Homo sapiens: one gene and its partners. The protein of the gene in region 1 interacts with the protein of each later gene in a biochemical or structural test. Each region holds a gene or a part of one and is shown in the gene's direction. Other genes may lie near its edges. The genes, in order: DNMT1, FBP1, L3MBTL3 and BRAP.

Region 1 (6,940 bases):
ATATTTTTTCTTTTCTTTTGTTTTTTGGAGACGGAGTTTCACTCTTGTCACCCAGGCTGGAGTGCAATGGTGTGATCTCAGCTCACTGCAACCTCCACCTCTCGGGTTCAAGCAGTACTCTTGCCTTAACCTCCTAAGTAGCTGGGATTACAGGTGCATGCCACCATACCCAGCTAATTTTGTATTTTTACTTTTATATTATTTATTTATTTATTTATTTATTTATTTTGAGATGGAGTTTCCCTCTTGTTGCCCAGGCTGGAGTACAATGGTGTAATCTCAGCTTACCTCAACCTCCACCTCCAGGGTTCAAGCAATTCTCCTGCCTCAGCCTCCGGAGTAGCTGGGGTTATAGGCATGAGCCACTATGTCCAGCTAATTTTGTATTTTTAGTAGAGATGGGGTTTCTCCATGTTGGCCAGGCTGGTCTCGAACTCCTGACCTCAGGTGATCCACCCGCCTTGGCTTCCCAAAGTGTTGGGATTACAGGTGTGAGCCACTGCACCTGGCCATTTTTTCTTTTTTAAAGACTGAATTAGGCTGGGTGCAGTGGCTTACACCTGTAATCCCAGCGCTTTGGGAGGCCAAGGCCAGCAGATCGCTTGAGCTCAGGAGTTTGAGACCAGCCTGGGCAACATGGAGAAATCCTGTCTCTACAAAAAATATAAAAAGTTAGCCCATTGTGGTGGCACATACCTGTAGTCCCAGCTACTTAAGAAGCTGAGGTAGGAGTATGCCTTGAGCCCAGGAGTTTGACACCTGCCTGGGCAACACAGCAAGACCCCATCTCTTAGCAGCAATATGATCTTTTTTTTTTTTTTTCCTGTCTCTTGGCTGTTGTGACTAATGCTGCAATGAAGACGGGTATGCAAATATCTCTTTAAGATCCTCTTTTCAATTCTTTTGAATTTATATCCAGAAATGGGATTGCTGGATCATATGATAATTCTATTTTTAATTTTTTTGAGGAACTTCCATGCTGTTTCTCATAGCAGCTCCACCATTTTATTCGACTCTCAACCGTGCACAAGGGTTCCAGTTTCTCCACATCTTCACCAACACTTATTATTTGACAGTGGCCATTCTAAGGGGTCTTAGGGATATTTCATTGTGGTTTTGATTTGCATTTCCCTGATGACCAGTGATGTTGAGCATCTTTTCATATGCCTGTTTTCTATTTGCATATCTCCTTTGGGAAAGTATGTATTCAAATCATTTGCTCTTTTTGTTTGTTTTTGAGACGGAGTCTCGCTCTGTTGCCCAGGCTGGATGGAGTGCAGTGGTGCAATCTCGGCTTGCTGCAAGCTCCACCTCCTGGGTTCACACCATTCTCCTGCCTCAGCCTCCTGATTAGCTGAGACTACAGGCGACTGCCACCACGCCTGGCTAATTTTTTGTATTTTTAGTAGAGATGGGGTTTCACCACGTTAGCCAGGATGGTCTCGATCTCCTGACCGCGTGATCCGCCTGCCGCCTGGGCCTCCCAAAGTGCTGGGATCACAGGTGTGAGCCACCGCACCCAGCCCATTTGCTCATTTGTAAATCGAGTTTTTGTTGTTGCATTGTAGAAATTTATTATTTTTTAAATTTTTATTTGAGACAGAGTTTCTCTCTTGTTGCGCAGGCTGGAGCGCAATGGTGCAATCTCGGCTCACTGCAACCTCCGCATCCCAGGTTCAAGTGATTCTCCTGCCTCAGCCTTCCGAGTAGCTGGGATTACAGGCACACCACCATGCCCAGCAAATTTTTATATTTTGAGGAGAGACAGGGTTTCACCATGTTGGCCAGGCTGGTCTCAAACTCTTGACCTCAGGTGATCCACCCGCCTTGGCCTCTCAAAGTGCTGGGATTACAGGCGTGAGCCACCAAGCCTGACGGGTAGTAATTTATTTTTTATATAATTTTTTTCTTCTTTTTTTGGTAGAGACGAGGTTTTGCCATGTTGCTCAGGCTGGTCTAAAACTACCGGGCTCAAGTGATCTGCCTACCCGGGCCTCCCAAAGTGCAGGGATCACAAGCATGAACCACCATGCCTGGCTGTAATTTTTCATATATTCCGGATATTAACCCTTTACCAGATAATACAGTTTGCAAACTTTTTTTTTCCCCATTCTGTAGGTTGCCTTTTCACTGTTGGTCATTTCTTTTGCTGTATAGCTATCCTTAAGTTTGTTGCAAACCCATTTGTCTATCTTTTGTCTTGTTGCCTGTGTTTTGCTGTCATATCCAAGAAATCATTGCCAAATCCATTGTCATGAAGCTTTTCCCCATGTTTTCTTCTAGGAGCACTATAGTTTCAGGTCTTATGTTTAATCTTTAATAAGTTTTGTGTTTTTGTATATGGTGTAAGGTAAGGGTCCAACTTCATTCTTTTGTATGTGGTTATACAGTTTTCTCAGCACCATTTGTTAAAGACACAATCTTTCCCCCATGTTCTGGTGCTTTAAAAAAAAAAAAAATTCTGGCTGGTTACGGTGGCTTAGGCCTATAATCCCAGCACTTTGGGAGGCTGAGGCAAGTGGACTGCTTGAGGCTAGGAGTCCCAGACTAGCCTGGCCAACATGGTGAAACCCTGTCTCTACCACCGAAGATACAAAAATTAGCCAGGCGTGGTGGAGTACGCCTGTAATCCCAGCCTACTAGGGAGGCTGAGGCATGAGAATCGCTTGAACCTGGGAGGCAGAGGTTGCAGTGAGCCAAGATCTCACCACTGCACGCCAGCCGGGGTGACAGAGTGAGGCAGGGTCTTACCCTGTCGCCCAGGCAGGAGTCCAGTGGCCCAATCATGGCTCATTGCAGCCTACACTGCCAGGGTTCAAGCCATCCTCCCACCTCAGCCTCCCAAGTAGCTAGGATTACAGGTGTGTGTCACCATGCCCAGCAAATCTTTGTATTTTTTGTAGAGATGGGGTATCCCTATGTTGCTCAGGCTGGTCTTGAACTCCTAACCTCAAGCGATCCTCCCACCTGGGCCTCTCAAAGCACTGGGATTACAGGCGTGAGCCACTGCGCCTGACATGGTGCTTCTTAATTTATTCTTACTTTTTATTTTTATTTTTTTGAGACAAGGTCTTGCTCTGTCTCCCAGGCTGGAATGTAGTGGTACAATCATGGCTCACTGCAACCTCTGCCTCTCCGGTTCAAGTGATCTTCCTGCCTCAACCTCTGGAGTAGTTTGGACTATGGGCACATGCCACAACGACTAGCTAATTTTTGTTTTTCTTTTTTTCTTTCTTTCTTTCTTTCTTTTTTTTTTTTTTTGAGATGCAGTTTCTCTATGTTACCTAGGCTGGTCTAAAACTCCTGGGCTCAAGCGATCCTCCCACCCTGGCCTCCCAAAGTGCTGGGATGACAGGCGTGAGCCACGTGGTGCTTAAAAAAGGCAACAAAAAACCCCCCACACACTGGGTATAGAAGTGGCATGGGCCTCTATACACTGTGAGATTCTTGGTACTAGCTACAAATTCTGTGTATACTCAAGATTTTCTAGAGTAGGTGCAATTACCCCGTTTTACAGATGAGGACACAGAGGCTGAGCCGTAGTGACCCACCTAAGGTCGTATAGCCAGCAAATAGATGGAGGTTGGATTGGAACTGAGGACTTTACTCAAGGGCTCTCACAAACCCTTGGGGGCTTCTCGCTGCTTTATCCCCATCACACCTGAAAGAATGAATGAATGAATGCCTCGGGCACCGTGCCCACCTCCCAGCAAACCGTGGAGCTTGGACGAGCCCACTGCTCCGCGTGGGGGGGGTGTGTGCCCGCCTTGCGCATGCGTGTTCCCTGGGCATGGCCGGCTCCGTTCCATCCTTCTGCACAGGGTATCGCCTCTCTCCGTTTGGTACATCCCCTCCTCCCCCACGCCCGGACTGGGGTGGTAGACGCCGCCTCCGCTCATCGCCCCTCCCCATCGGTTTCCGCGCGAAAAGCCGGGGCGCCTGCGCTGCCGCCGCCGCGTCTGCTGAAGCCTCCGAGATGCCGGCGCGTACCGCCCCAGCCCGGGTGCCCACACTGGCCGTCCCGGCCATCTCGCTGCCCGACGATGTCCGCAGGCGGTAGGTACCATGGGGGGGAACACGGACTCAGGGGGACAGGCAGGGCGCTGGGTGGGGGGTCGCTTCCCCTCGGGGTGGCCGGTGGCCGCTGCTGACAGACGGGCGCGCATGCGTGGGGTGGTGCGGCGCGCAGCGGCAGTTGGCGCGGGCAGGGTGGCACTTCCGGTCGCGCGTGCCCGGGCTGTTTGGCGCCAAAATGGACCGTGGATTCCCCCGTAGCTCCCTGGTGGCTAGAAACTAGGCGGGGTGGGGGTTCTCTTTTGATCCCCAAATACAGCAAGCTTTGGGTTCGTTTCCGGGGTCCCCTTCTTCAAGCAGCGGTGGGCCGGGCTCTTGACTCCAGCTTGGTCGCACAGGAAGTGGGCAGCCCGCGGCCAACGGACACCCCTCGGGCACCGGCACTTCGGCCTCCACTTCCGGTGTCCGGCCCGGTCCCCGGGGGCGCTTCTGTGGTGGGGGGTCCCTCAGTGCCTTTCCCCCAAAGCTGTGCATCTCGATGGCGGCCTCCAGAGACGGATGTCACCCGTCGGGGCCTGGGCTGGGCTGGCTCATGTTCGAGAGCCCAGCCTTCCGTGGGGTACTCATTCTGTCAGTTGGGACTGTGTGGTTCTTGCTCCTTGGGAAAGTCCATGTTTTGGCAGGAACTTTAACCGTGCATTGCAGCGCAGGGCCCGGGAAGCGTGAAGGCTGCATGGTTGGTCTTTTCCTGTAAATCTGTGCCTGTGAGCCGTGGGCATCAGGGAAGTCTTGCTAATGAGAACTGGCTACACTTTCGTGTGTGTTTGTGTGTGTTCATGGGTGTGTTCTTTAGTGTGTGTCTAATGTTGGAGGCCCTGGCTTTAGCAGTTCATGCCTCTGTCCAACTTCCGTGCACAAGGATCAGTGGGAGCACTGGTCCCAGCCCCTTGTTCATGAACGCCATCAGTTCATTCCTGAAAACTTGTTCAAGTGAGGTGTGCGTGAGTCAGAGGAACCCTCACCAGGCGTGGACACTTCCAGCTGGATTTGTGAAAGCACTCTTTGCCATTTTTCTATTTCCTTAGGCTTGTTAACTGACCTGGTTGGGCCAGTCCGGTTCTGATTTGGGTCTTTGGGGAGGGATGGATATTTGGTTCAACCCCCGCTTTTTTTCTTTTCTTTTTTTTTTTTTTTTTGAAGGCTGGGTGCTGTGGCTTATGCCTGTAATCCCAGCAATTTGGGAGGCAGTGGCGGACGAATCTCTTGAGCCAGGAGTTTGAGACCAGCCTGGGCAACAAGGCAAAACCCCATGTCTACTAAAAATACAAAAATTAGCCTGGAGTAGTGCCGTGCGCCTGTGGTCCCAACTACTCAACAGACTAAGGTGGGAGTATCACTTGAGCCCCAGAGGTTGAGGCTGTGTGTAGCGAGCTGAGATCGCGCTATTGCACTCCAGCCTGGGTGACAGAGTGAGACCCTGTCTCAAAAAAAGAAACACTTTTTATTTTTAGAGATGGGTCTCACTCTGTTGTCCAGGCTGGAGTGCCCTGGCACAATTATAACTCACTGTAGCCTTGAACTCCTGGGCTTAAGGGATCCTCAGCCTCCTGAGTAGCTGGGACCACAGGCGCCCACCACCATGCCCAGATGACTTTCTTAGTTTTTGTTTCTGTATACGTGAGGTTTCACCATATTGCCCAGGCTGGTCTTAAACCCCTGCCCTCAAGCAGTCCTCCTGCCTTTGTGTCCCAAAGGTTAGGATTACAAGTATGAGCCATCATGCCTTAACTACTACTTTTTTTTGTTTGTTTGTTTGAGATGGAGTCTCATTCTTTCACCCAGGCTGGAATGCGGTGGCGTGATCTCGGCTCACTGCAACCTCCACTTTCAGGGTTCAAGTGATTCTCCTGCCTCAGCCTCCGAAGTAGCTGGGATTACAGGTGCACACCACCACGCCTGGCTAATTTTTGTGTTTTCAGTGGAGTCGGGGTTTCTCCATGTTGGTCAGGCTGGTCTCGAACTCCTGACCTCGTGATCCACCTGCCTCAGCCTCCCAAAGTGCTGGGATTATAGTCAAACCACTTCTTAACCAGTTAGTGGGTATATATCTTCTTGAATCATCTGTGCCAGTATTCTCCCAAAATAAAACTTGATTTAAAATGGAATGGAAGTGAAATTATGAAAGTGCCTGGCTTCATGATGTTACACCCAATTCAGAGAAGTTTGGGCCCGGCCTTCCTTTTTTATTCCTTTTTTTTATTTTGTAGAGATGGGGTCTTGCCATGTTGCTCAGGCTGGTCTTCGATTCCTGGCCTCAAGCGATCCTCCTGCCTCAGCTTCCCAAAGTGTTGGGATTACGGGTGTGAGCCACCATGCCCAGCCTGCCCAGCCTTCTTGAAAACATGACCTCCACTGGCTCAATGACCTTAAACAAGCGTATGCCACCTCTATATCCATAGTCTAGGAATAATGACATGGGTTTTCAGCTGGTATTGGGTTAAATGAGAATATGCATGGCACATAAAGGTTCACATGCTAGTGGCTAACTTAGCTTGTTTTTTTCAGTTTTTTTTTAAGAGACAGGATCTCACTGTGTCACCCAGGCTGGAATGCAGTGGCACAGTCATGGCTTACTGCAGCCTTGAACCCCTGAGCTCAAGCAATCCTCCTGCCTTAGCCTCCTGAGTGGCTGGCACATGCCACCATGCCCAAGTTAATCCTTAAAAAATTTTTTAGAAGGCTGGGCGCGGTGGCTCACGTCTGTAATCCCAGCACTTTGGGAGGCTGAGATGGGCAGATCACCTGAGGTCAGGAGTTTGAGACCAGCCTGGCCAACGTGGCGAAACCCCATCTCTACTAAAAATACAAAAAAATTAGCCAGGTATGGTGGCAGGTGCCTGTAATCGCAGCTACTCGGGAGGCTGAG
Region 2 (7,022 bases), on another chromosome or scaffold:
TTAATTTTGGCTACGTAAGGTATGCGTTTTATTTATTTATTTATTTTGAGATAGAGTCGCACTCTGTTGCCCAGGCTGGAGTGCAGTGGTGTGATAATGGCTCACTGCAGCCTCAACCTCCCAGGCTGAATTGGTGCTCCCACCTCAGCCTCCCCTGTAGCTGGGACTACAGGCATGTGCCACCATGCCGGATAATTTTTGTGTTTTTGTAGAGATGGGGTTTTGTTATGTTGCCCAGGCTGGTCTCAAATTCCTGGGCTCAAGCGATCTGCCCACCTTGGCCTCCCAAAATGCTGGGATTACAGGTATGAGCCACTGTGCCTGGCCAATATGTGTACTTTTATACTAGATAGTTGTGAATACCAGGTTTTAAAGAAATACTATGTTGCACTCATTGACAAAAATTTAAACCATTCAAAAGAATTCAAGGGAAGAGTGAAACCCACCCCATATATATCCCATGGGGTATCCACTGCAAATAATTTACTGCTTATTTTTCCGGATACTCTTTTACAGTCATATAAGTTTACACATGAACACATATTTACATATGCCTATAATAGCAGACAAAATGGGATCACAATACACATTTCTGTAGTTTGCTTTGTTATTTAACATTATTCAAGAAACATCCATTAATATCGGGACATCTACATCTACCTCCTTTTAACTGCTGTGTGCTGCTCCCCTGCACACATCATGAGGTATTGAAGTTTTTCTCTATTTTGGGGCACTTTGGTTTTTACTAGCCTTTGGGTATTACAGTGCTGTACCCTTGGAACTGGTGTGCATGCCTGGTTGTTGGGGTAGCTGACAGGACTAGATGCTGGACACTGAGGTGATCTTGTGGGAAGTTCAGCGTTTGGCCATTTTCAGTATCACATGTCATCAGGCAGGTAGCATGATTCTCAAGCCAGGCCCCCAACCTACATTCATTCCAGGCATTGAAATCCAGAAAGAAAAACCAGCATTCCTGCAAAGATCTTGTTAGTGCTGAAGACCGGACCTAGAAGAGCATGTACCCAGAGGGACGGGGTGATTGCAGATTTGCAGGAACCTCACTGGAGCCAGTTTAGGGAGCTCACCCAGGATCATTATGGAAACATCAGGAGTTTAAGCACAGAGCCTGGTGTAACCTAAAGTTGCTATTGTAGTCACTTTCATTGCTCCTGTTAAAATGTTCATGGAATCATTGAGTTTTAGACTGAAAGAGACTCAACAGTCAGCTAGTCTATCACCTCCTCATACAGAAGAGGACCCTGAGACCGAGGAAGATGAGATGACTTGGCCTGTGGCCGGGATCTCAGGAACCCCGGATTGGAGGTCTTTTGGCCACACTACACATCTCTTCCTTTATTTTTTAGAAATCAATTAGAATTCACCAAACTCTAAATCTCATCTATTAGTTAACTGGTTTTTTTTTTTTTTTTTTTTTTTTGAGACAGGGCCTCACTCTCACTCAGGCTGGTGTGCAGTGGTGCAATCTCAGCTTACTGCAACCTCTGCCTCCCGGGTTCAAGTGATTCTCCTGCCTCAATTTCCCGAGTAGCTGAGATTACAGGCGTACACTACCATACCTGGCTAATTTTTGTATTTTTAGTAGAGATGGGATTTTGCCAAGTTGACCAGGGTCGAACTGGCCTCAAGTGATCCACCTGCCTCGGCCTCCCAAAGTGCTGGGATTAGAAGTGTGAGCCACTGCGCCCGGCCTAATTTTTGTATTTTTAGTAGAGACAGGGTTTAGCCATGTTGGCCAGGCGACATTTTTGATGTGAATTCAGGCTTAGATACCAAGGAGTCATTGCTTTGGGCAAATGTGCCCTGGGAGACTTCCCTCTGGGCTTCTGGCTCCCTCCATCCACTCTTGGGAGAGAAACTGTGCAGATCAGAACAGTCTGCAACTTGAAGTCAAGCTGATGAAGTTGTGGTTCAAATGTCAAATTCGAGTGTTGTCCACTTTGCATTCCTTTGGGAGAAAGTGGTGCTCCAGTGGCTTCAGGTTTTTTGTTTTGTGGAGTTGACTTCCCTTTGTATCCATTTCCAAATCACTGACTGAAGAATTCACTGATTTCATTCAATTAACAAAATATTACTGAACATCCACCATGTACAAAGTTCCAGAAGACGAGAACAACACAGAGTTTACTCTGTAGGAAAAAATATTTGTATCGTTCTAACACGCAATAGAGGTTTTGAAAGATGCTTTCTTTTTCTTTCTTTTTTTTTTTTTTGAGGCAGAGTCTCGCTCTGTTGCCCTTGCTGGAGTGCAGTGGGGCGATCTCAGCTCACTGCAACCTCCGCCTCCCGGGTTCATGCCATTCTCCTGCCTCAGCCTCCCATAGCTGGGATTACAGGCGCCCACCACCAAGCCCAGCTAATTTTTTTGTATTTTCAGTAGAGACGGGGTTTCTCCATGTTGGTCAGGCTGGTCTCAAACTCCTGACCTCAGGTGATCTGCCCGCCCCGGCCTCCCAAAGTCCTGGGATTACAGGCGTGAGCCACTGCGCCCGGTCTGAAAGATGCTTTCGCGGTGGCTCACGCCTGTAATCCTAGCGCTTTGGGAGGCCGAGTCGGGCGGATCACGAGGTCAGGAGATCGAGACCATCCTGGCCAACACGGTGAAACCCCGTCTCTACCAAAAAATACAAAAAAATTAGCCGGGCGTGGTGGCGGGCGCCTGTAATCCCAGCTACTTGGGAGGCTGAGGCAGGAGAATGTTGTGAATCTGGGAGGCGGAGCTTGCAGTGAGCCGAGATCGCGCCACTGCACTCCAGCCTGGGCGACATAGGGAGACTCCGTCTCAAAAAAAAAAGAAAGATGCTTTCATAGAGGTGCCAAAAATACGATTCATGGTGAAGGACTGTGGAGCGCCAAGAATGGGCACGTGCAGGGGAAGCAAAAGGCCCGGCGGCTGGACCGCAGTTCAGGCTGGAGGTCACAGGGGGAGGAGTCCTGAGGTGGGAAAGTGTTTCTGGAAAAGTTGCCCACTCAATTTGACCAAAGCATGGAGTACTCATGGTAGGGCGTTCGTGGATGTGAAATTGTGGGTACATTGGGGAAGCATCAAATGGCAAGGGTGAACACTTTACACTTTTGGGGGTATAGAAAAGGAGAGATCAAGGATTTTGAAAGTTTTTTGAGTGGGGCAGTTGCGTGACTGGAGACAAATCTGGAGAAGGTGTGGCTGGAAGTATATCGGAAGAGCGAAAGATAGGATATGGGAAAACCAGTGGCAAGGGGGAGCCGTCAGTTGAGTAGCCAGCAGAGCTGCAGCCTTGGAGGGGAGAGGAAGGATTTGGAAGAAGTCTGAGCATGGATTAGATGAGAAGGGCTGTGAGGGAGTTTCTGAAATCGCTGGTCCTAGCAATTGAATGCAGAGCCCATGCCACCACAAAACAAAACAACACAAAAACAAAAACAAGGAGGAGCTGGTTTTTAGTCTGGGGAAGGAGGGAAGATGATCCCAACATTTTGGAAACGCTGAACTTGAGATGTTAGAGGGTGATCTGTTGGGAGATGCTGTCCAGCTGCAGGCTGTTTTGCCTGTCTGTTTTGGCACGCTTGCCCTGAGGCAGAGAAAAGAGGAGGAGATCTGGACCAGTTTAGCAGACAGGAATGTGCAGGGATTCAGAGCACGTTTTGGAGAGAGATGGAGCCAAGCTTAGATTCCTGGCCCTGCCATTCAACGTCTGTGAGGATTGGGCTGTTGATGTGACATCACTGAACCTGTTTCTCCAATTGTTAAGATGGAGACAGCCTCAGAGACTCGTAGGAGGATCAATTAAGTTTACTAATTGGGTACCAATGTTATTAATATCATTGTTTTCCTGAAGGCTATATTTCTTTATTTTTCAGACAGAGTCTAGCTCTGTCACCCAGGCTGGAGGGCTGTGGTGTGGTGTGATCTCGGTTCACTGCAACCTCCACCTCCAAGGTTCAGGTGATTTTCCTGCCTCAGCCTTCCAGGTAGCTGGGATTATAGGTTCCTGCCACCACACTCAACTAATTTTTGTATTTTTAGTAGAGACGGGGTTTCACTATGTTGGCCAGTCTGGTCTTGAACTCCTCACTTCGTCATCCACCCGCCTCAGCCTCCCAAAGTGCTGGGCTTACAAGTGTGAGCCACCGTGCCTGGTCTATTTTATTTTCATTTTTTTGTAAACTTTTATTTGCATGTTTTGTTCTTCATTTCTTAGCAGTAGCCTGTATGCTATCAGCAGGGAGAGAGTCCAGGCTAGCATGTTACATATTAGAACAATGTTGCACCCAAGAGTGGCTGCAGGAAATGTCCTCCCATCAGACTCATATTATGTCCAGAAGAGTTACTTTTATATATGGGGTCCTCTCAGCTGTTTGACAGAAGAAATAATAAAGAGCTTCAGATTTCGTTTTAGAATGACACGTCAGCTAATACACGTTTAGGCTTATCTTCCAATTTGCAGTTTTTGGCATTAAGCTTTTAGAAACTTTACCAGATTTATTTTATGTTTCTTGAATTCTCTTCTCCACATGACCAAGGAGTGAAATTGCAAGTTTGTTTGCATAAAAGAAGCGCAGACAGCCACGTTCCATCCTGTTTACCAGTTTAGGCCCCGGTGAATGCAAGCAGAGGCAGGTATTTGTGACCTTTGAAAGCAGCTCTCACTAGCACCTCTTCAATGTATTTCTGAACCTTTGGATGTTCCTGGCTGGGCAAATGGTTGATTACCATGGAATCAAGCAGTAACAAGCCAGTCTTACCTTTGACTTTAGTGATAAGGATTAAGTAATAATCTCCCTCCCTTTTGGTTGAGCTGCGTGTTCCGAGCCCGAGTCTGGTTCTTCTGTGTGCTGTGTGAAGTGTTGCTGCTGCAATCGTGTTACTCAGTCACAGTGACTTCGGGAGGAGATGGTCCTAAGTCAGCAGATCCAGGCAGCCCTGGAGGGCTCTAGTTCTGTCAGCCCCTGGCTCCAATCCTTGTGTCCTTCAGTGTTTTAGAGATGCTGTGGAAGGCAGCCTCCCCCAATCATCACAAATCTGCATGTTCAGTGTCACAAAGTCCATGGCTGTGAAATGGTTCATTCTGTTTTAGAAACCATTTGTAAACTTGGAAAACAATGCTAAAATTTAATTAAAATATCCAAGGATTTCAAAATACTGGCCACATTAATCTATGCTTCTAAGGTGTTCTCCATCATATGAATTAAAATGACTTAGAGCTCTTTAAATTTTTCAGTGGGATTTACAGTAAAAGTAAAGAAGAGATATTATAGGCAGTTTCTCCAGTTGAGTTCTGCTCCCCAAACTCCAGGAAGAGCTCCTTCGTATCTCTGGGGCTGGAAAGGGAAAGGACACAGAGACTTCAACCCTGCCTGGTGCTTTTCCACTTTACTTGGGCTGCAGGGCCAACTAATTTGAATAAAATTGAAGTGAAATGTCAAGAACATCTCAAATAAATAATATTCCCAGTGAGATTTTATCAAATGTAAACTTGGAGCACTTTTTTCTTCTTTTGCCAGTTCCTTATTGGCTGTCCTCCAAGAAGTTGCCTGCAAAACTGGTTTAGAGATACCTCCCCTTCCCCCAATCCCCAGATCAACCCACACTTACTTAGTGGATGCCTGCGGGGCTCTATTGTCATGTGGCTGCCTTGGTGGGGAGTACTATGAACCAGGTGCACCGCGCGCATTATCCATGATCCCCACAAACATGGCCAGAAACAGCCACTCAGGGGCTTTGCACAACTTGATGTCACATCATCAGTAAGAAGCAAAGGCAGAATTTGAACTGAGGTCTTTCTGGTGCTGAGTTCTTGCTTCTCCGCATGGTTGTGTTATGCCAAGGGAGCTAGAGGTGGAAACGGTAATATTTCTTGCACACTTGCCTATGCACCAGGCACTTTTCTGACCACTTTACCTGTATCAACTCAGTTATGCCCCCTCTCTGTAGACTATGAAGCAGACACACTACATTCCCATATTGCAGATGAACCAGAGGTCACAGATGCTAAGTGACTTTCCCCGGCTGCTGAGCATGGAGCAGAGCTGGGATTGGAACCCTGGTGGTGTAGAGTGCCAGCCTGGGGCCTTGACCATTACACTCTAGTTTCCTGAGGAACCGGGTGAAAGGCCATTGCATTTGTCTAACGCTAAGTTTGCACAGCAAACACACTTTTACCAAGAAGCTATGCTAATCTGGAGGGTTTTTTTCAGGAGTTGGGAGTGTTGGATGGTAGAGGTTATGCAGGCAGGCATTACCAATACCACTGGGTCTAATGGAGTTTATGATCTTAGGAATTCTTGGATCCTTTTATTACTCTCTAAATTTATTCATCCATTTACATTGAGAACTTACTATGTGCAGGCATTGTTCTAGGTGCTAAGGATACATGGTGAACAAAATATTCTTTTTTCCAGGATCAAGACTGATAGGTCTTTCTTCCTCCAGAGGCACATTCAGATGTGCCATGTTTATGTAAGAGTTTCGGTCCCCTTGGAGTATACACTCGGCATTTACCTGGTGCCCTGTACTTTTGCTTCAGACCTCACTAGAAAAACCTCTGGCTGCCTGTAAGGTTCTAATTTCGAATGTCCCAGGTAGAGGGCTGTGCCATCCTCAGGATGGCCCAACAGGTGAGGTGAGCTCAGAGGCCCTCCACTCTTGGCATTCTTGTACAAAGCAGGTTGGGCCCAGGCCTCTTAAGATCGAGGTTTTAGGTAGCATTTCCAGGGGTGGCAGCCCTGTCTGTGCCCTCCCTCCCAGTGGCTCTTAGAAGAGAGTGGGCCATTCCTAAGGCCATGAAGACAATGCCCCATAAAGGTCATGCTTCCATGCCTGAGGGCTCTCCCGGTCCTCTCTTGGTGGGGGTTGAGAGACTAGACCCTCCCCCCTACCTCCCCAGGAGTGGGGGTTATGTGATGTCACCAATGCTGGTGTCTCACTCTTGCACACATTTTCCAGGCTCCTGGCACCATGGAAGATCTCCTGGAGGCTGGTGCCTTCAGCTTCAGGCTCTGATCCTTCCTTGTTGCTTTAATTATCC
Region 3 (7,574 bases), on another chromosome or scaffold:
ATGAGTACTATACCCCCTTTTTTCCCCCTCAGCATTTCAATTACATTTCACTATCATAAGCTTTGTGCTGAGTGTTGGATACAGATGTATCACAAGCAAGAGATTGGTATTCAAATGAAAAGAACTATAAGAACATTTCAGTGTTATCTAGAACATTAACAGGAAGACCAGACTCAGCTCTTACAAATATCAATGATAAGAATTTTGGCCAAATCAATGTTAACATCATTTTTACAGTTGGAAAAACACAGAGCACACAATTATATAGGCTAAAAAAAATCAATAACTTGACTCATATGTAACAGTAAGATAATACATTAAAAGGATGATTTCAAGAATTGTTCTTTTAGAAAATTTCTATAGAAAGGTTCAATTTTACCTTAAGACTTGTGACCAATAGCACACATTGTAACATGGGGGACCGGGGTTAGGAAAGCAGTCTGTGGCTATGAAACAGATCAAAACTAACTAGCCATTAGGGAATGAAACCCATGACCTCCATCTCATTAGTACCAGGCTTAAGCCAAGCTGAATGAGCTATTCATTGATAACATTATGATACCTATTGGATGAGCCTTTACTCTTTACTTAAAAATCCCTTTCTCGGTTCCATATTATTTGTACTAAAATATGATTGTGTTGCTGTTATGTGAGAAGGAGTAGGGAGATACATGGCTTTCAAGGAGACTTCAGAAATCAGACTGAGCGCAGTGGCTTATTCCTGTAATTCCAGCACTTTGGGAGGCCGAGGCAGGAGGATCACTTGAGCTCAGGAGTTTGAAACCACCAGGGCAACATAACGAGATCTCCATCTCTACAAAACATAAAAAACATCAGCCAGGCATGGTGGCATGCTCCTGTAGTCCTAGCTACTTGGGAGGCTGAGGTGGGAAGATCATTTGAGCTTGGGAAGTCGAGGCTGCAGTGAGCTGTGATTGCGCCATTAAACTCCAGCCCAGGTGACAGAGCAAGCCACTGCCTCCAAAACACAACAACAAAAACTTCAGGAAGCAGGGCCAATTAAAAGGAAAAAAAAGGGAAAAAATCAATTACTCTGTTTACTTTATCTAAGTAGGGAGAGAACTGAAGCTCCTAAAACGTGAGGTGACATGGCTAATGGTTCCCAGTGGTGGTAGCAGAACTGGATTAGAACACCAGTCTCTTGGACTTCACTCCTGGGCACTTTCAATTTGTGAAGGGCTGGCTCATGGAAAATGTAATCCTTGAATTTTTCCAGGACATGAGGGGCCTGTCTTATCAATGCAGGACAAGCATAGTGTTAGGAAAAGGGTGCTAAGCATTTTTGTTTGTTTGTTTGTTTGTTTTGAGACAGAGTTTCGCTCTTGTTGCCCAGGCTGGAATGCAATGGTGCAATCTCGGCTTACTGCAACCTCTGCCTCTTGGGTTCAAGTGATTCTCTTGCCTCAGCCTCCCAAGTAGCTGGGATTGTAGGCATGCACCACCATGCCCAGATAATTTTGTATCTTTAGTAGAGACGGGGTTTCACCATGTTGGCTGGGCTGGTCTCGAACGCCTGACCTCAGATGATCCATCTACCTAGGCCTCCTGAAGTGCTGGGATTACAGGCGTGAGCCACCACATCCTGCAGTAGCTAAGATTTCTAAAATGAAGTGCATGCAGCATCGACATTCCAGGATGGAGTACAGTGAGAAGTTTTGAATGACATCCATGAGGGTGGGGGATGGGGTGATGAGAGGCTTCAAAAATTCTCTGGAGAGTGAGTACAGTGATTTGTTTAAAACATTTTCTATGTAAAATGACTTTAGCTTCAGAATATTTGGGAATGTAGTAACCTGAAATCATTTTGGGGTGGACAAGTTTGGATATAAACAAATAAATATAAAGAAAAATAAAGGAGTGAGCTCATAGCTGAGTGTGGGACGTCAGGGAAGTTATAGACCTGAACCTGAAGCATGGATTTGGTATTTACATGTGGCAGGGTGGAGGAGGGTGGGATGGGAAGGTGGGAGAGTGGTAGAGGATGATGAGATTAAGTGATGCCGGAAAGAAGGCATTCATCATGAATCATTAACAAGTGAGTGAATGGTGGAAGGTGGAAGGGATGGCAAAGAAGCCTCTGCTAGTATATTACTATTTAGTGAACAGACGGAGAAAGGTCTGGTAAATAGTACACATTTATGCGAAGAATAAAATCATGTTACCTAGCTTCTAATAATGTATTTTACCTCTGTTTTAGATAGTGGCACCAAAGGATTCTTTGTAGAAAACTTTGACAGCAGCCTTTAAAGTCATTATTCCTACAAGTGAGTACTTTCAAAATCTTTACTATCCTGAACCACATCTTGAGAAAAATTGAGATGAGGTTTTAATAATGATCTCCGGAGGAGAAAGAGTGTATCATAGAGAGCCTCAAGTCATCCTTATTTCTGTTAGTGAACCTCTGTCAGTACACTTTCTAGGCAAGCCTTGCTCTTGAAACACTCGGACCTTTACTCAGGACTTCTCTGATTGGTTCATGTTCCCAGACACCTTCTGGGAAGAAGAATGGCATCATGTACCCTGGATGTTTGTCCTTCAAGAATCAGCTTAGCCATCACTTCTAATGTAAAGCCTTTCCTTATTGCCACTGGTGCTCAACTGTGTTTGCTCTACATACCTCTGCTATAACATTTTCCATATAACATTACTGTAACATAATGCCCAATTTACTACACTGTCTCTCCACCAGGCTGAATTTCTTGTAGCTGGGGCCTAGTTTTGGTCACCTGTTTATCCCCAGCACCTTGCAGAGCACTTAGCACAGGTAGGCCATTAATACACATTTATAGACTGTTGAACCAGTATCACTGAAAACATAAGTACAACAGAAATATCATCTAGAAATTATCTTGAGAGAAGGAATCTAAAATTGATTTTTCAGAAAGAGGAATCTAAAATTAATTTAGTTTCCATGGGGGCAAGGTCTTAGTTTTGTACATAGCTCATGCCCTTTCTTTCCTTCTCCTGCAGTTTGCCTTTGGCCATTTCACTGCTTATTATTCAAGGGCTAGAGAGAAAAGGAGAGAAGCTGAAATTCAGATCAGTTAATTAAGCTGTTTGGGAACAGCTCTGAAAAGGGTTGAATGTGGTGGGTGAAATCAATAGTGAACTGGTGGTTTGAGATCATCTACAGCTCTCACTACCCAGCCTTCTCTACTTCACACCCCTCAGCCAACGGCTGTTCAACGTATGAAGCATTTTATAAGTTCATTTCAGCTTCACAGGATTTGTCCGTTTGTTCTGGAGTACATGTTAAGGCATATGGCCTGATTTTTGGTTTGGAGAATTTGGTCACTACACCAACATTAGATATATCGGGTGGTCTGCTTCTATAGGGTAATTTCATGGTCCTAAGGAAAGAATTTAAGAGTTTATGTTCTGAAACTGGTTCAAGAAACATTCCTTAAGTGAAAAAATTCAATCAAGAATAATATTCCCTACACTGGAGAAGGATTTTTAATATAGAACTTCCATCTGTGATATATTTAAATTCTAGGCCTCAGGCAGCAGTTTCAGAAAAGGGCCTCCTTTACCCTTTATTAGATGCAAAATAGTCTACTCTGGGGATGGGAACTTCCTTTTACCTCCCCCCCCCCGCAAAATCTAAGACATGCTTCCCTCATTCCTAAAATCACACATGCTTTTTTTTTTCACACAGCAAACTCTGCTATTGACATCAAAATGTTTATCAAAACTTTAATTACTCGAATTATTTTGTAAGTACTCCTATTAAGTGGAAAAGACCAGTGAAGCTGTCCAAACGGCGGCCCGCAGTCAATGCGCCGAAAGCTGTCAATACTGAAATGTAATACTCTCTTGATCTAGTTTTGACGCTTTAACAAAGACAGGTTTTGCCATTTAGGACCGCTCAGCCATCTTGACTGAATACCTTAAGAGGGTAGTCCTGGACCTGCTTATTGCCAAGGGACTTTCACAGTGTTCTAAGTTACTGTAGGAATCTCAGCCTATTACTCGACAGAGGCCTAACATGTTGGAGCTGTCAATAAAGATCCGCACTTAGGAAGCGGAAAGAAGGCACAAGTTTTATATGCACACTTTCTTTATTATGCATTGTTCCAGCCATCAAAGAGAGGGAGATTGTACTCTCCCAAAGCTTACAACTTTGTTACTTTTCATGACCTGTAGCATGTATTTAGCCTTTGGGCAGTGTTTGTGCAAGACTAAGGCCCACTCTTTAATGGCTGAATGCATACATTTCACAGCACATGGTGGATTCGCTGCTCTGAGAATTGCCTTTAAAAAAAGTAAAGTGAAAAATAGACAAAGAAATCTGGAACCTTAGCAGTGTTTCCTATTTGTTTGGACTGTTCTTGAACCAGCTCTGAGGCGGTGACCGGGCTATTGAAAAGATGCACCTGAAACAGGATCTGCGGGCAGCTGCATTTGCCACCCGGCTTTATTGCTGCTTTCCAGCGGCGAAGGCGCAGCAGCAGTAACAGGGAAGCCAGAGCGAGCCTCCCCGGCAGCGGCGGCGGCGGCGGCGGCACCGGCACCAGCGCAGTTTCCCCTCTCCCCAGCCCTGACTCTACGCGCACATGCGCATTGCGCCCGCAGCCCTGGACCATTTGTCAGGACTACTCGTGAGACGGAGAAAAAAAAAAGAGAAAATTTGGGGGTAAGAAGCGGTTGATCGGATCTAATCTCTAATTAATCTGAAGATTTGTCCGTGCAAAAGCCATTCATTTATTTTTCTGGGTGAGGATGAAAGTTAAGAGCCCTATAGAGGGAAGGAAGCGCACCCTCGTCTTGTGAAACAGATCAGGGGAGGGGAGGGACAGAAGGGGTTTCTCCCCCACTTCTCTGCGCCTCTGGGAAAGAGGAGAAAACTTAATCCCGGGGAAAAAAGTGGGCAAGTGACTCGGAAACGGCTGGAGGGGGAGTCTCTGGGCATCTCACTCTGAAGTAGTGAGTGCGAGTGTGAAAGAGGAACAAAAGAGAGAGAAAAGAGAAAGGAAAAAATGGGGGGAGGAGAGACTTGTATTTTTTTCTTTGCGCGCACACGGGGAAGGGTGTGGGGGGCCGTGCGGAAGGGAGCCGGGGCGAGGCGGCCGCGTTGGGCTCAGGCTGGCGCGCAGGCGGCGGGATGCGTGTGGCCCCCTCCCCCGCGCCCCCCGAGCTTGTCACTTTGGTCGCTTTCGTGACACCGGGCGCGGGGTGGGGGAGCGCGGCGGCGCCGGGCTCCACCGGGGTGCGTGTCCGGGTGGGCGCCGCGGAGCCGCAGCCCAGGCGGCGAGCGCGGCCGCCGAGGCGGGGGGCGCCGGCGGGGGGCGCGGGGGCGGCCGGGGCCGCGGATCGGTGCGGCGGGAGGCGCGAGCCCCGCGCGCCGCCCCTGCGGCCCCCTCCGCCCGTGTGGCCTTTGTGCCGGGCGCGCACCGGAGAGCGAGCGAGCGGGCGGGCGAGCGCGAGAAGTACAAGTACGGGAGACCGAGGCAGTGGGAAAAGAGGCCGGGCCACTTTCTCCCCTTTCGGGCTGCGGAGAATGGACTGGTTGAATGTGCAGGCGCGTCTCCCCGGCGTGTGCTGTGTGTGTGCGCGGCGGAAAGGCCTGCCCGACTCCCACCGCGCACACGCACACTCACACGCACGCACACACACGGACCCGCGGCGGGGCTCGGCGGCCGAGAGTTTGCGTGGCTTCCTCGCCGCCTCCCTCTTCCCAACCGAGTGTGTGAGAATTTCATATAGATCAGCTCCAATTTCCGCCATTTTGGGAAAGTTGCACAAAAATAAACCCTCCGGTTTATTTCTGCCCGAGGCAGGAAAGTGCTTTGGGAAGCGAGGCGGCGCGGGCCCGCGGCGGCCGTCCGCGCGGGAGAGGGCGCGGGCCGCGGGCCGGGCCGGGAGCCCGCGCCGTCGCGGCGTTCGCCCCGCGCCGTGCCGCGCCGCGCCGGCCCGGGTGCGGGCGCGGGCGCGGGCGTGTGTCGGGAGGCGGCGGCGGCGGTCGCGGCGGCGGCGGCCGCGCCGGGGCGGCGGGCTTGTGGGGGGAGGGTGGGGGCGGCGCGGGGCTGCTTTTCCTGCAACTTGTTTACGCCTGCCTTATTCTGGGGAGGAAAAGAGGGGTCGGGGCCGGGGCCGGCGCCGGGGCCACCGCCCGCCTCGCGCCGCGTGTGTGTGCGGTTCCGGAATAATGGGCTTTGCACACTCGCGTCCTGGGCCCCGCGGGCCGTCCTCGCGCCGCGGCGGCGGGGCGGGGGGAAGTAGAGGCCGGCGGGGGTGGGGATCGGGAAGCGCAGGAGCCGAGGCATCCGCCGCGCGCCCCGCGAGCTGGTGGAGTGTGGGGGCCGCCGGGCGGGGAGAAAAACTTGAGAGCCCTGGAAGGGGAGGAGGGCACGGTGGCACGGGCGGGGGGAGGGCGCAACTTTTGGACTGGTGGTAAAACTTTAATTACCTTTAAAGAAAAAAAGGCCCTGCGATTCCCCCCTCCCCCAGTCCCGGTCAAAGCACAGCCCGCAGCGCGACCGTGAGAGAAAGTTTAAAAGCGGGCGTGTTCCTCCCGGGTCCCCGCGGAGGGCTGGGGGCGTCGGTCTGTCCGTCGCGCTCAGAGGGAGGTGGGGGTAACTAGCCGCTTTCCAGGGCGCGGGGACCGCGGCTCTACCCCACCCTTCCACGGGAGACGGAGGTAAACGTTGCTTCGGTTTCCCTTCTGAGTCCCCCTGCTGCCACCACCCCGCTTCCTTTTCCTCCCCCTCCCCGCCGATTTTTTGAGGGGACCCGAAAAACGGAGTCCCTTTCCTTAGGCAACTTCCTCGGGCGCTGTGAGCACGGCCCTCCCCCTCACCGCCCCCACCCCCAACGCCTCGCATCCCTTGGCCCGCTTCTCCACCTCGGGGCCACCGCCAGAAAAATGCATTCGAGATCATTCAGAGTGCACAGAAACAAAAATAGATTTTTAATTGTTAGGTTAGGGGAAACTGAGATGAGAAATAAGAATTTGGGGTGGGGGGGCGCGGCCGGGGCGAGTGCGTCCAGTTCTCCTTTTGGTTTTCCTAGAGCGTTGTTTGTGATGTCTTTATTGGTTTAGGGAGTCCGAGAGGCTCTATGCTGGCTATCTCGGTCGCGTGGATTTTTGCGCAAGTTTTTAGAAAAACACTGACTCGAGTAGAGAGCATTTCTCCGGAAAGTTTCAAGTGCAGCAAAATAGCGAACGTGCAAAACTGGCCAAGGGGAGACCTCTAGTGGTTGAACGCGTCTTTTAAGTTCGGAAGGCCGAGAGCAAAGTTTGGCCTTTACTCGTAGCTACGTAGTCCGTTCAGACGTGGAAGTAATTAGAGGACCTGAGCGAGCAGCCAGATGTTGTGTGAAAGGATGCTGATCAGAAATTGAAAGTTTAGTAAATCGAAGCAATGAATTCTGAGGACTCAGACCCTGTAACTTCCATCCGACATGAGTTATATGGGAAAGACACTTTGCTTTTATTCAGAGATTTGAGATTGATCGCTCCCTGAATTGGAAACAATTGTTTGCTTTTGCATTTATCGGTGTCTGTACCTCTGATCAATTTTTAATTAACGAGTCTCAGCTGATGACTTTAT
Region 4 (7,454 bases), on another chromosome or scaffold:
CACGTAAGTACTTAACACAAACTTTGTTTCATGCACAAAATTATTTAAAATATTGTATAAAATTACCATCAGGCTAGGTGTATAAGATATATATGAAACATATATATATAAGTGAATTTCATGTTTAGCCTTGGGTCCCAACCCCAAGATATCTCATTATATATACGCAGATATATCAAAATCCAAAATCTGAACTACTTCTGGTTCCAAACATTTGGGACAAGGGATACTCAACCTCTATAAGCACCTAGAGAAAGGACTCTTAAGTGGTAAATCTTGAATATAATGTGTTTCTCATCTATAGTCAGCCCTCTGTATTTGTGAGTTCCACATCTGCAGATTCAGCCAACTACAATAGAAAATATTCGAAGTAAGGCCGGGTGCAGTGGCTCACGCCTGTAATCCCAGCACTCTGGGAGGCCGAGGCGGGCGGATCACAAAGTCAGGAGATTGAGACCATCCTGGCTAACACGGTGAAACCCCATCTCTACTAAAAATACAAAAAATTAGCCGGGCGTGGTGGTGGGCACCTGTAGTCCCAGCTACTCAAGAGGCTGAGGCAGGAGAATGGTGTGAACTGGGGAGGCGGAGCTTGCAGTGAGCCGAGATGGTGCCACTGGACTCCAGCCTGGGCAACAGAGTGAGACTCCATCTCAAAAAAAAAAAAAGAAGAAAATATTTGAAGTAAAACAAAACAAAACAAACACACACAGTAAGGGCACAGTAACTGACGCCTGTAATCCCAGAACTTTGGGATGCTAATGTAGGCGGATCACCTGAGGTCGAGAGTTCGAGACCAACCTGGTCAACATTGTGAAGCCCCGTCTCTACTAAAAACACAGAAAAAAAATTAGCCAGGCGTGGTGGCGCACACCTGTAATCCCAGATACTCGGGAGGCTGGGACATGAGAATCACTTGAACCAGGGAAGTGGAGGTTGCAGTGAACCAAGATTGCACCACTGCACTCCACATTCCAGCCGGGGTTATAGAGTGAGACTCCATCTCAAAAACAAACAAAAACCAACAAAAATAACAACACAACAATAAAAAATGCAAACAAAAAATACAGGTTAACAACTATTTATTTACACAGTACTTACACTGTTTTAGGTATACATACATATATATGCATGTATATATATTTATATATTTTGATATGGATATGATTTGATATATATATTAAATATATATATTTTTTGATATGGAGTCTCCCTCTGTCACCAGGCTGGAATGCGGTGGCATGATCAGAGCTCACTGCAACCTCCACCTCCTGGGTTCAAGCGATTCTCCTGCCTCAGCCTCCCGAGTAGCTGGGATTACAGGTGCGTGCCACCACGCCTGGCTAATTTTTGTGTTTTTACTGGAGACAGGATTTCACCATGTTGGCCAGAATGGTCTCGATCTCTTGACCTCATTATCCACCCACCTTGGCCTCCCTAAGTGCTGGGATTACAGGCGTGAGCCATCGTGCCCAGCCAGTATTATAAGCAATCTAGGGATTACTTAACTCATATCTTGCTTGCCCTGAGAATACTGTGCTGGCAGCGAGCTGCACTTTTTTTGCTTTCTTTTTTTTGTTTTGTTTTGAGACGGAGTCTTGCTCTGTCGCCCAGGCTGGAGTGCAATGGTGTGATCTCGGCTCACTGCAACCGCCTCCCAGGTTCAAGCTATTCTCTTGCCTCAGCCTCCCGAGTAGCTGAGACTACAGGCGCTCGCCACCACATCCAGCTAATTTTTTGTATTTTTATAGTGGAGACGGGTGTTAACCATGTTGGCCAGGCTGGTCTCGAACTCCTGACCTCAAGTGATCCACCGGCCTCGGCCTCCCAAAGTGCTGGGATTGCAGGCGTGAGCCACCACACCAAGTCAAGTACTTTTTTTTTCTAAATGGGAAATGGGTTAAAGCATATAGGAGGGTGTACATAGGTTATAAACAAATGCTACACCATTGTATATCAGGAACTTGAGCATCCACAGATTTTGGCATCTGCAGGGGGTCCTGCACCCATCTGCTGAGGATACCACCATGCAACGACAGTAATTGGAAATTTGCTGAATTTGGGGGCAATATTTGAAACTAAAAATGTCAAGGTTCATTTGCATTTTCAGTTTTACTTAACGTTCCTATGCCAAGGCCAATGTTTATGATAGAAAGAGAAATTTACTTACACACTTGTATATTTTGTGTGAGGGCTTAGTAGAGACGAAAAATGCCTTTGGGGGGGCCGGGCGCGGTGGCTCACGCCTGTCATCCCAGCACTTTGGGAGGCCGAAGTGGGCGGATCACAAGGTCAGGAGTTCGAGACAAGTCTGACCAACATGGTGAAACCCTATCTCTAAAAAAAAATACAAAAATCAGCTGGGTGCAGTGCTGTGTGCCTGTAGTCCCAGCTACTTGGGAGACTGAGGCAGGAAGCTTGAACCCAGGAAGCCGAGGTTGCAGTGAGCCGAGATGGCACCACTGCACTCCAGCCTGGGCGACAGAGTGAGACTCCGTCTCAAAATACAAAAAAAAAAAAAGGTTTGTTTGGTAAAGAGATAAAGAATGTTCGTTCTGGATTCAGATTGCCTGAATTTCAGTTCCAGCTCTGCCACTACTACCTGTGAAATCCTGAGCCAGTTACTCTTCCTCCAAGCCTCAGGTTACTCCTCTGTAGAACAGGGACATAGTACCAGTTTCATAAAGTTGTTGTGACCATTGCATGACACAAGGTATATGAAACACTCAAATTAGTACCTGGCACATGTTGAAATGTTATCTACTATAGTAATATACTAAAAAAGTTCACAAGAGGTCTCATAGGTTTTATGCATACAGTATGTGTGTATGGTTTATGCACTTTCACATAACCCTGTGATTCTTCAACAGGGTTATGTTTTCTAACCCCAAGGAGACATCTGGAAAGGTCCAGAGACATTATTGGTTGTCACCACCTGGGGAGAGGTGCTACTGACATCTAGTGGGTCAGGCCAGGGATGTTTCTAAACACTCTACAATGCTCAGGACACCCCGCCCCCTTGCCAAAAACAAAAAAGAATAATCAGGACCCAAAATGTTAATAGTGCAGAGTTGAGAAACCCTGATTTAAACAGGGCATATGGAAACGTATTTCATAGGATGTAGTCACAAGATCTATATACGCATGTATCTTGTGGTCATGTCATAGTCCAGATACACACACATCTAGAACGCACTATGTCCACACACACACACATCTAGAATGTACTATGTACTTACATATGTATCATTATACAATGTACCTAGAGTAGCATCCTGTCATGTATGTGTCCCATATGCATTGATTGTGTCAGTATCTACATACAAAAGCCACTCTGACATACTGGAAAGAATGCTGAGCCTCAGAAAAGCTAATGTTATCTCCATATACATAATTCCATTTCATCCTCACAACTGCATGAGGACATGATATCATGCCAACTTTATGCAATGACTATACTAGTTCAAGACTGCACAACTGCTGATGTAGGTCAACCTCATAGTACGGACAGGAACTGTGTTTATCTTATACGCCAACGTATCTCAAGCATCCCAAGGGTGTCTAGACTCTCAGTAAACATTTGTGAAGTGACAGGGTGGGGAGGAGGACCCCGGTCTAACTGCAGCACTATGCTCGTAACCAGCAGATCACCATCTTTTCTCTCTTTTTTTTGAGACGGAGTTTCGCTCTTGTTGCCCAGGCGGGAGTGCACTAGCACTATCTCGACTCACTGCAACCTCCGCCTCCCGGGTTCAAGCGATTCTCCTGTCTCAGCCTCCCAAGTAGCTTGGACTACAGACGCGCGCCACCAAGCCCGGCTAATTTTTTGTATGTTCAGTAGAGACGAGGTTTCACCATGTTGGCCAGGTTGGTCTCGAACTGCTGACCTGAGGTGATTCGCCCGCCTAAGCCTCTGGGCTGGGATTACAGGCGTGAGCCACCGCGCCCAGCCAGATCGCTATCTGAACAGCGATCGACTCTCCACTCTCTACGGCCCCTTAGAAGGAACTTCACCTCTCTGAGCCTCGTTGTACCTATCTGTAAAGTGGGACAGAAACAAAACCATCCAGACTAGGGTTAGAGACAGGAGTCAAACACAACAAAAGGGGCAAAGTTCTGCATAGCAGATAGCTCGGACAATTCGGAGACCTCGCGGAGCCAGGGATCCCGCGCCGTCAGCCGAGGTGGATTAGGACGAGGCCTCTGGAGCAAGCAGAGGTTAACTCGCGACTGTGCGAAAACCTGCAGCTCAGCCTAAGTGTGGCACCCCAGCGCAAGCAATCTCCACGACGTCCTTCCGCTCCGACCTCCTCAAAATTGCGTCCGGAAGAGCAGTGGGTGACCCCTGCCACGCCGCCCAATCGCTGTGCGCGGTCCTGCGCGCATGCGTAAACCGCAGGTCAGCGACGGCGGCCGGGAGGCGGAAGTGGAGGTTGTTGTGGCTCCGAGGGCTGTTCGAGGAGCTGCTGCTGCTGAGGCGGCGGCAACTGCATTGAGGTGGTGGCGGCGCTGCCGGCCCCGGGCCGCTCGGCCTCTCGGCTCGCCTTCCAGCCTCGCCTGAGCCCGCCGGGGCCCGCGCCGGCCAGCGCCTGCCCTATGAGTGTGTCACTGGTTGTTATCCGATTGGAGCTCGCGGAACACTCGCCTGTCCCCGCCGGCTTCGGCTTCAGCGCCGCGGGTGAGTCCCGCGGCCTCGCCGCATTCCCTGTAGCCGGGTCTGGGCCCGGAGGGCTTCCCTTCCCAAAGCACTGGCCCGGGAAAAGCCCGCGGCGAGGGCTGTTGCCCAGGAAGACACGGAGAGGTAATCGGGATCCCTCTCTTTCCCATCCGCCTTTGAGAGGCCTTCCCGTTTGTTATCTCAGGGAAGCCCTGCCCCGAACCTCCCTCCCTGTGCCGTCTGAGGGCATTTAGTTTATACCTGGCGCGTCTCCCTCTCGAGATAGTCGAGTGGTGTGTTTGTCTCACTTGCTTCCCTATGGGCTTCGTAAAGGCAGGGACTGGGTCCCCAGCAACGCTGGACGGTCCCTGGGTTAATTAAATTGTTCCCTTTTGGAACGATATCCATTGAAGTGCCCCCTAACCATAGTCATAACTAAAATTTGGACACTTCCTATATCCCAGCACTGTACTAAGCACCTTTTGTGTATTGTATTCTTTAATTATCTTTGCAACAGCCCTAAGAGGCAGATGGATGTGACATGTACCTCTTACACATTGGGAAACTGAAGCTTAGTGATTAATTGATTTGCCCAAGGTTATCTGTAATGGGTGAAACTGGGATTCTAACTCAGTGAGCTGGACTTGAGTCTGAGCTTTTTACACCATTAACACAAGTGAGGAAGCTCCTTAGTGGGGAATGCAGCTCTGGCTCTGTTCCTTGGTCCTCAGATAATTAACTAACATTCATTCAAGAAATACTTGGCCGGGCGCGGTGGCTCACGCCTGTAATCCTCACACTTTGGGAGGCCGAGGCGGGCGGGTCACCTGAGGTTGAGAGTTCAAGACCAGCCTGGCCAACATGGTGAAACCCTGTCTGTACTAAAAATACAAAAATTAGCTGGGCGTGGTGACAGGTGCCTGTAATCCCAGCTACTGGGGAGGCTGAGGCAGGAGAATCGCTTGAACCCGGGAGGTGGAGGTTGCGGTGAGCCAAGATTGTGGCACTGCACTCCAGCCTGGGCGACAAGAGATAAAGTCCATTTCAAAAAAAAAAACAAAAAAAAAACTTATGCTCATATCTGCTGGAGCCTTCCTTGTGTGCTGAATCAGACAGCGTCTCTGTTTTAATGGCACCAGCAGTATCATGGAGGAAACAGATGAATTAAATAAGTGCAGAATATGTGTAGAATTACAACTGTGGTAAGTGCTGTGAAGGAAAGGAGAAACAATTTGGGAAAGTATTACAAGAAGATGTGTTTGGTTTGGAGAGAGGGATGGGGGCAGGTAGGGATGGTGTCATTGGGAACTTCCTGAGGACGTGACCTTTGAAGCTGCAAATTAAAGATTGAATATGACTTTATAGCTTATGAGCACCTTTCCAAAGGCTAAAAGTGGCTTCTGAGTTCTGAGAGTCAGCTAAATTGATATTAGCCGCATATAGACATCTGCATGGGTCAGTCATGTAGTCATTTATTCATCAAACATTTAGAGGGCTTCCTCTGTGTGCTCGGCACTGTGGTATAAGGGCTGGGAATACAGTGGTGGGCAAAACAGGCCTTGTCCCTGCCCTGACAGAGCATGTATTAGGGATATTTCAGTTAAGTCTCCAAATTCCGTTTCCCTTTTCATGTGTTTCATTGATTTAAGACAGTAATCACAGATGTTCATGGCTTGGTTCATGGCATGAGCATAAGCCAGGATGTTTAAGACTACCCCTACAAGTTTTTGAAATTTTGTTTTTTTAATGGACTTGATAGCTTCATTTTGGGCTGAACACAATTTCATTTTATCAGGTGTTACTAAAATGTTAGCTCATCTGGGCATGATCACTGTTGCATCTTCTCTAAGGCTCCCTCTTTGGCGATTTGCTTTAAAGTGCATGATTTTGGGCCAGGCGCAGTGGCTCAAACCTGTAATTCCAGCGCTTTGGGAGGTCAAGGCGGGTGGATCACTTTGAGGCCAGGAGTTCGAGACCAGCCTGTCCAACATGGTGAAGCCCCATCTCTACTGAAAGTACAAAAATTAGCTGGGCGTGGTGGCACGTGCCTGTAATCCCAGCTACTCGGGAGGCTGGGGCAGGAGAATCACTTGAACCTGGGAGGTGGAGGTTGCAGTGAGCCAAGATCACACCACTGCACTCCAGCCTGGGTGACAGAGTGAGACTCTGTCTCAAAAAATAAAAATAAAGTGCATGATTTCAGTAGAACAGCCCTGCATTTCTGAGTATATTGTCCTGGCTGCTTATTGACTCTTTGCTGTGTACTGCAGTGGTCCCAGAGTTGAGTGAGATGGATACTACAAAGGCTTCTTATCATCTTGGCGGAAGGCAGGAGAAAGAAAAGGAAAACCTAATGATAGAGGAATAGAGAACAGAGAGGAGCTTGTTTTATTACCTTGTATTAATCATTCATGTGTTCTTTAGCCGGGGAAATGTCTGATGAGGAGATAAAAAAGACGACACTAGCCTCAGCTGTAGCCTGTTTAGAAGGCAAGTCACCAGGAGAGAAAGTAGCGATTATCCATCAGCATCTCGGCCGTCGAGAAATGACAGATGTGATCATTGAGACCATGAAGTCCAACCCAGGTATGCTTTCTAAAACCCTGGACTCTCTTTTGTAATGTGAACACTGGTTGCCTATTTTATACACGGTGTTTGATGAGCCTACAATTTCAACATCTAGCATACTTTTGTCTTTCACTACGTGTGTGCTTTATATGACACTGTTAAGCCACATGTTAGTGTTTCCAAATATTTCTTCCAAATTAATCCTAACAGTTGGAGTTGACAATTCAGT

Evidence for each region.
Region 2: the proteins of DNMT1 (region 1) and FBP1 form a complex in vitro, tested with the Homo sapiens proteins (one study listed by BioGRID).
Region 3: the proteins of DNMT1 (region 1) and L3MBTL3 form a complex in vitro, tested with the Homo sapiens proteins (one study listed by BioGRID and IntAct).
Region 4: the proteins of DNMT1 (region 1) and BRAP form a complex in vitro, tested with the Homo sapiens proteins (one study listed by BioGRID).

Annotation. Positions count from the first base shown.
Region 1 is NC_000019.10:10,191,936-10,198,875, reverse strand, and holds the start of DNMT1 (DNA (cytosine-5)-methyltransferase 1), read left to right. Parts: upstream 1-3,922; 5' UTR 3,923-3,976; coding exon 3,977-4,056; intron 4,057-6,940. UniProt on the Homo sapiens protein: Methylates CpG residues. Preferentially methylates hemimethylated DNA. Associates with DNA replication sites in S phase maintaining the methylation pattern in the newly synthesized strand, that is essential for epigenetic inheritance.
Region 2 is NC_000009.12:94,629,503-94,636,524, reverse strand, and holds part of FBP1 (fructose-1,6-bisphosphatase 1), read left to right. Parts: intron 1-7,022. UniProt on the Homo sapiens protein: Catalyzes the hydrolysis of fructose 1,6-bisphosphate to fructose 6-phosphate in the presence of divalent cations, acting as a rate-limiting enzyme in gluconeogenesis. Plays a role in regulating glucose sensing and insulin secretion of pancreatic beta-cells.
Region 3 is NC_000006.12:130,014,008-130,021,581, forward strand, and holds the start of L3MBTL3 (lethal(3)malignant brain tumor-like protein 3), read left to right. Parts: upstream 1-4,573; 5' UTR 4,574-4,657; exon of another isoform or gene 4,658-4,737; intron 4,738-4,793; exon of another isoform or gene 4,794-4,947; intron 4,948-5,052; exon of another isoform or gene 5,053-5,230; intron 5,231-5,313; exon of another isoform or gene 5,314-5,456; intron 5,457-5,636; exon of another isoform or gene 5,637-5,706; intron 5,707-6,257; exon of another isoform or gene 6,258-6,661; intron 6,662-6,719; exon of another isoform or gene 6,720-7,574. UniProt on the Homo sapiens protein: Is a negative regulator of Notch target genes expression, required for RBPJ-mediated transcriptional repression. It recruits KDM1A to Notch-responsive elements and promotes KDM1A-mediated H3K4me demethylation.
Region 4 is NC_000012.12:111,682,935-111,690,388, reverse strand, and holds the start of BRAP (BRCA1-associated protein), read left to right. Parts: upstream 1-4,432; 5' UTR 4,433-4,596; coding exon 4,597-4,678; coding exon of another isoform or gene 4,679-4,801; intron 4,802-7,081; coding exon 7,082-7,243; intron 7,244-7,454. UniProt on the Homo sapiens protein: Negatively regulates MAP kinase activation by limiting the formation of Raf/MEK complexes probably by inactivation of the KSR1 scaffold protein.